Homo sapiens: one gene and its partner. The protein of the gene in region 1 interacts with the protein of each later gene in a pairwise test. Each region holds a gene or a part of one and is shown on either strand. Other genes may lie near its edges.

Evidence for each region.
Region 2: the proteins of CERT1 (region 1) and RTN4 interact in binary tests that used the Homo sapiens proteins (3 or more experiments, as listed by UniProt).

What each region holds. Positions count from the first base shown.
Region 1 is NC_000005.10:75,396,630-75,400,129, forward strand, and holds part of CERT1 (ceramide transfer protein), read right to left. Parts: intron 2,759-3,500; coding exon 2,681-2,758; intron 1-2,680. UniProt on the Homo sapiens protein: Shelters ceramides and diacylglycerol lipids inside its START domain and mediates the intracellular trafficking of ceramides and diacylglycerol lipids in a non-vesicular manner.
Region 2 is NC_000002.12:55,043,952-55,047,451, reverse strand, and holds part of RTN4 (reticulon-4), read left to right. Parts: intron 1-125; exon of another isoform or gene 126-636; intron 637-3,500. UniProt on the Homo sapiens protein: Required to induce the formation and stabilization of endoplasmic reticulum (ER) tubules. They regulate membrane morphogenesis in the ER by promoting tubular ER production.

The DNA.
Region 1 (3,500 bases):
GAGGCAAGAGAATCGCTTGAATCCAGGGGGCAGAGGGTGCAGTGAGCCAAGATCGTACCATTGCACTCCAGCCTGGGCAACAAAAGCGAAACTCCGTCTCAAAAAAAAAAAAAAAACAAAAAACAGAAAAGACCGATGCAATGTAATATAACATAAGTGTTTCTAATGTTAATGAATAACCTTTGAGCCTCTTATTTTGCTTAATACAAAAGTCTCTATAGGGTGTGAGAACTGTAAAATGTAACACTACTGTATAGTCACTACTATAATTTTACACTGTGTTGAACTGGAAGAGTTTTCCAGATAACACAATGTTTCTCAACTAATATTAACTCCAGATCTACATCCAATGCTATATTCTCAAGTGTGACTATACAGAATCAACTTGCTAGATCCTTTGATAATGGCTGATAAGGCAGTGTAACATCCTCTGAAACAAAAAATCTTATCAATTGGGAATTAGTCATCTATTATAAAGGAACTGCTGAACATAAGGCACACAATTTAATTACAACAGTGAATTGCTAGAGTCCACGTCTGCTAATGACAACTAATGCTTTAGCAAGGACAACAAATACTTGAAGACCTTAATGTTATTTTCTTCATTTTTACCTCTTCTGGCATATAAAACAGTACATAATCAAAGGCTAAAACAGGATCTGATCAATCATGAGCACCATATATTAGAGAAAAAAATCCAGCAAGATTTCTCTCAAGTTACATACATGAGTTTTACAAAAGGTTATTAATATTACGAAGAAGTAAGCTGTCAGCAAAATTTTGTAAAAATATAGGCACCTGCTTCTCAGTGATATAGTTACCTGGACTTAAAAGCAATTCAGCTGTTCTACAGCACTACAGTGAGGGCCCTGGTTTGGGTTCTGAACCCCTAATTCTTAGGCATTCTTTATTACTGGCTTACATTCTTTCTTTGCTGTCATTATATTTTCTTTCATTTATAGCCTATGTATTCCTGCATTTTTGATTAGTCTGTGATATGATTTTAATGCAATGTGGAGCTTAGCACAATAAACCAAAGTCTCCCAGTATTATGTAGTTTTGTCACAGATTCATTATGAATATGAGTCTCTTTTTAAAAACATACGCAGGGCCGGGCATGGTGGCTCACACCTGTAATCCCAGCACTTTGGGAGGCCGAGGTGGGCAGATCACGAGGTCAGGAGTGCTAGACCAGCCTGGCCAACATGGTGAAAACCCGTCTTTACTAAGAATACAAAAATTAGCTGGGCATAGTGGTGCGTGCCTGTAATCCCAGCTACTTGGGAGGCTGAGGCAGGAGAATTGCTTGAACCTGGGAGATGGAGGTTGCAGTGAGCCCAGATCGTGCCACTGCACTCCAGCCTGGGCAACAGAGCAAGACCCTGTCTCGAAAATAAATAAGTAAAATTAAAAAAAAATGCATAAATGGACAAGCAAAAGGTAAAATATACTGTGGTATATTTGGTTATGGATGATTTCTGATCCAGAATTGCTAAATCTTTTTCTTAAGAGTATTCAAGGAGAAAAACGCTGTACAAGTCAGAAAAATTAAAGTCTTAATATTCTTCTCTATTGCAGGTTAAAAACTAATGTAAACTTTATTTATAAACATAAAAATAATAGAAATCTCTTTAAACTATGACTTTTAAAAACTTTTATAGCAATACTCTCACAGAGGAAAAAATAATGATGTAGATAACTTTTATTAGCTCAAAGAAATTATGTTATAATAGCAATACAAGGTAACATTTATTGAGCACTTATTATGTGTCAGGTTCTAGCTAAATCATAAAAATGAAGCACAAAAAAGTTAGAAAACTTACTGGGATCATACACCTAACCAGGGTTTAAACTGAGTCATTCTGACCAGAGTGCTCAGGTCTTTAATATAAGATTAACATAATATAATCTAGTCCAATAAAATGCAATCACCAGAAAGATAAAAAGTTGAATGGCAAAGATGTGAAGATTAAGAAAATTAAAAAAAGAACTAACGCTGACACTAAAAAAAACTTCTTCCAATGGTAATCTGATTTTATTTTGAGGGTACAGACTTTAGAGACCGCAAGCATCCAGCTTCCTGTCTTAAATTCCTAAACCCTTACCAATGCTAAAAATTAAAACAAATTTCCATAGATTTAGCATATGAACAGAAATATTCATTTATAATATCCAAAGGTAATTTGCATAAGGAAAACACAATCTGCTCAATAGAGCTTAGTATTATAATGGAAATGAAACATATTATTAAAAAGTGATTTCCTTGTTGAATATAATTTGGAGATACTTTAGCTTAAAAGTGAGACTGTTAAAATCTGCTTTTCTGCTATAACATATCATATAGACCACGTCCATCAAAACTGCTAAATCCTGACTGAAGAAACAGATATTACATGATATACAAAACCCAGTATCTTCTATTTGTTTCAATTCAGTTTGAAAATCTTTCTGGAGTACCTCCTATATGACAAAATTCCAAGCTGTGAATAGTAAAGGACACATGCAAACCTGACAGAGGAACTATTTAGTAGACAAGGAAGACCTTTTTAATGCTTAATGTTACTATTTAAAATTCAAAACTAAAATCAGTGGCCTAACCAAAAGATTTCTAGGAACTGGGAAAGCAGGCTGAAATATAGCACAGAAAGACTCAAGTCCACTCTATACATTCATACAGTACCTGGGAGCTGAATCTGTGAACATCATCAGAGGCACTGACTAGATCAATGGAAGACATGGAGGAAGAGCGACTATAGGGCTACCAGAGACAGACAAAGAAAAAACCAAGTAATCAGAACAAAGGCACAACAGAGCATTCAGTACCAACTTCCAAACACAAGATAAAGGGAAGAGAAAACAAAGCACTATATGAAACAAGCACAGCAGCAACTGCTGACTTCATGCACCTATTATGTATTATGTTCCAAAATCATTCCAAAAAAGAATGTAGTGCTTCCAATAATACAAAGTAATACCATTTAACCCCAAAGAAGAGAGAGATTTAGTATAACTGGATATACTTCTGGTTAACTATTTTGGACTAGCCACTCCTTATTTGCCCACCCCCAACTTTCCCCTTAAATAAAAATGAAAGAACTTTATTTTCAGAACAAAATTTCTAACTGTTTTGGAGGATGTATATGGAATACAATATATAAAACCAAAAACAGTCTCATTACTTAAATTAATGAAAAGGGGAGAAAACTTATATACTACAAGATATTTCCGGCTGGGCATGGTGGCTCACGCCTGTAATCCCAGCACTCTGGGAGGCTGAGGTGGGTGGATCACAAGGTCAGGAGATCAAGACCATCCTGGCCATGGTGAAACTGTCTCCATTAAAAATACAAAAATTAGCTGGGTGTGGTGGTACATGCCTGTAATCCCAGCTACCAGGGAGGCTGAGGCACGAGAATCTCTTGAACCCGGGAGGTGGAGACTGTAGTGAGCCGAGATCGCGCCACTGCACTCCACTCTGGTGACAGAGTGAGACTCCGTCT
Region 2 (3,500 bases), on another chromosome or scaffold:
TAGAAGATGAGGAGTAACTCAATCTTTTCCTTTTTCTTTATGAAAAAGACATACTTGAGGGAAACTGAGGTAAGAGAAAAATATGAAATATATTTTTAAACAGGAATTTTTTTTTTTTTTTTTTGAGATAGTCTCCCCCTTGTCACCAGGCTGGAGTGCAATGACGCAATCTTGGCTCACTGCAACCTCCGCCTCCCAGGTTCAAGTGATTCTCCTGCCTCAGCCTCCCGAGTAGCTGGGATTACAGGCGCCTGCCACCACGCCTGGCTAATTTTTGTATTTTTAGTAGAGACGGGATTTTACCATGTTGGCCAGGCTGGTGGTCTTGAACTCCTGACCTCCAGTGATCCACCCACCTTGGCCTCCCAAAGTGTTGGGATTACAGGCATGAGCCACTGCGCCTGGCCACAGGAAGTTTAATGATTGACAAAAGCATACTAATCTTGTATTGGTATGGGAACAAAGAAAATAGTTCTGTCTTTGAACATTAGGGATTCAGGGGGTGACAGCACTCTCTTGGAATCTTGTGTGTTGGAATGCTGAGGTTGGAAGGCAATGGGGAAAGAATATTGCCTGTTCTACAGAGTTCCCTAATTCCATATTGATGATACCTATTGGGAAACTTTAGTTTTTTTAGTAAGTGTAAGAACATTGTGATTATGGTTGTGGATAGTTAACCATTTTCAATGTGTCTGGATTTCTTAATGCATTCAAGAGTTTGTTCATTAATTCAACCCATTATTGATTACCTACCAAGAGACAGGATCTATTCTAAGCTTTGAGGGTATAGCAATAAGCAAGACACATGCTCCCCCTTGGGAGAGTACAGATAATAAGCACATAAATAAAGAACCCAGAATAGTGGTGTTATGAGGAAAATAAACAGGATAATGGCATAGAGAATGATGGGGATTTATGGGGGCTTTTTTAGGTTAGGTGACACTAAGACAGGCTTAGAAGGTGAGATTTGAGCTGCAGAGAGAAAACATTTCCAAGCAACTTCAGGGCAAAACCCTGAGGCAGGAATGAGCTCTTTGTGTCTGAGAATCTAGTGTAAGACTAGTGAGAAAAACTAGTGGGAGAGTGAAGAGGTGGCCTTACCCACCCAGATCATTGGGGGTCTCTAACAGGCAATGGTAAAAATGTTTAGCTTTTTAAAAAAATAAAAATATGCTTATTAAATAATTATATTGTGATTTTGGAACTAAAATAAGTTTGGAAGATTCAGGGCTACTGAGAGGACTGATGTGAGACAAAGGTGAGAAATGTGCAGAGCAGGGTTAGAAGCATAGACTAGCCTGCCTGGAAGAGAGGGTTTCTAGATCACTGACACTTGTCTGTTTAACATTGCTGTTTACGTTATTTATGAGTAAGCCCTGATTTTCATCTGTTAATAAGTTGTAATTTTACTGTTTGCTGTTGTGCCCAGAGCATCTCCATCGCAATGCAGTAACTGAAGTGAGACTAAAACCTCTCACTTGAGGGCCATTTTTCATGGGAAAATACTTGGCTTAGTGGTTGGTTAAGTTAGGCTTTGAGGATATGCGCAGAAAACTCTGGCTAGAAATCGATTTGAGAGCAGTGCAAACATAATTAAGGGTGACTTCGAACTGGTCTCTGGACATGTTCTAAACCAAGGTTAATTAAGACCGAAAATATGTAGATCTGGATTCTGAAAGATACTGAATGCCAAATTAAGGAATTTGGATTTTATCATTCCACTTTAATCCATGCTCTGCTATCCAGTTGCCCTTGCTTTTGGTAATTTATATTATGAAACCAAAATTGTTTTTTTTAATTGTTGTTTCTAAAGTTATTGTTTTTCACCCCTTCTCGAATTAGAGCTTTTGGCTTTGGGAAGACAGCCATTGAAGGTTATTTGAACTGAGGCAAGGCACCGTGAAAGCAGTATTAGAAAATTGGTGACAATATTCAAGATAGGTGGGAAGGAAAAGCAGATGAATTATTTAGAAAGCTATTACAGTAGTTCTGAGAAAGATGAGTAGGGCCTGAACTATTTCATTATTTGTTCATTCAGTGAAAATGGAATAGAAGGGAGGAATATAAGAGTATAAGAAGCACGCTTTCTTTAATTGGCTGTGAATCTGTTTTTATAGTTAGTTTACGAAGAGGCTGTATGAAAGACGAATTGATAGGACTTGGAAACCATGAATGTAAAGACAAAGAAAAGAATATTAGTGCTTATTAAATCAGTTTCAGAGACTGCCAAAATTTAATTGCCATGAAAATTTGTATAAAATTGAATATTGCTCATAAATACAGATTATGGGTTGGGGCTTAAAAATTACTAGTTTTTACTATCATGAAGCCATTTATTATATGATCATTTTTATTGGCGTAGTAGCATGTATTAGAAATTTTAAGATTTTGAGTGACATATGGTTTAAATATTAGGTATCAGTTCTTAATATAAAGTCCAAGTTCCCAGGAAGTGGATGCTTCTAAACACAAGAAAGTCATGCCCTGTCCATTCCCCACTTTCATTTTTGTGATTCTGAATAATTTCTGGTTAAGCCATTTCTTATTTTTAAAAGTTGGGAATAAGTAGTATACTCCTCATGGATATGGTGAATTATGTTTCAGATTGGTTCCTGGGCAACTGAGTGTCAAATTTGTGGTCTTTTTTTTTTTTTTTTTTTTTTTTTAGTGATTTGCAAACTCTCTCAAATCCTTTTTAAAATGAAGTGATGGGTATATGTGGAACCACTGATAAATAACTGCATGGAATAGTGTTTAGAAAACATGCTATTTTAGTGCTATATTATTGTAAACTTAAAGGATTTGCCATGTTATAAAAACATTTCTGAAAAGGAGCATGTTACCTATTGTCCATTAATTGGCTTTGTTTTATGTGTAGTTATTTTCTTTTTAAAAATCTAAAAACCAAAAAACAATGGTCTCACTTTTGTCCAGGCTGGTCTCAAACTTGGGGCCTGAAGCAATCCTCCTGCCTGGACCTCCCAAAGTGCTGGGATTACAGGCATGAGCCACCATGCCTGGCAAGTTTTTTTGTTTGTTTGTTTGTTTGTTTGTTTCTTTTGAGACAGAGTCTTACTCTGTCGCTCAGGCTGGAGTGCAGTGGCATGATTATGGCTCACTATACCCTTGACCTCCTGGGCTTAAGCAGTCCTCCCACTTCAGCCCCCCAGGTAGCTGAGACTACAGGTGCACACCACCATGCTGGCTATTTTTAAAATTTTTTAAAAAAACTTTTATATTTATGTATTTATATTTTGGAGACAGGGTCTTGCTCTTTCACCCAGGCTAAAGTATAGTGGTGCAGTCTTGGCTCACTGCAGCCTCATCTTCTGGGCTCAAGTGATCCTGCCACCTCAGCCTCCCAACTAGCTGGGACCACAGGCACGTACCACCACGCCCGGCTAATTTTTGTGTTTTTCGTGCAGATAGGGTTTCGCCATGTTGCCCAGGCTGGGCTCAAATTCCTGAGGTCAAGCAGTCTTCTCGAAGTGCTGGGTTTA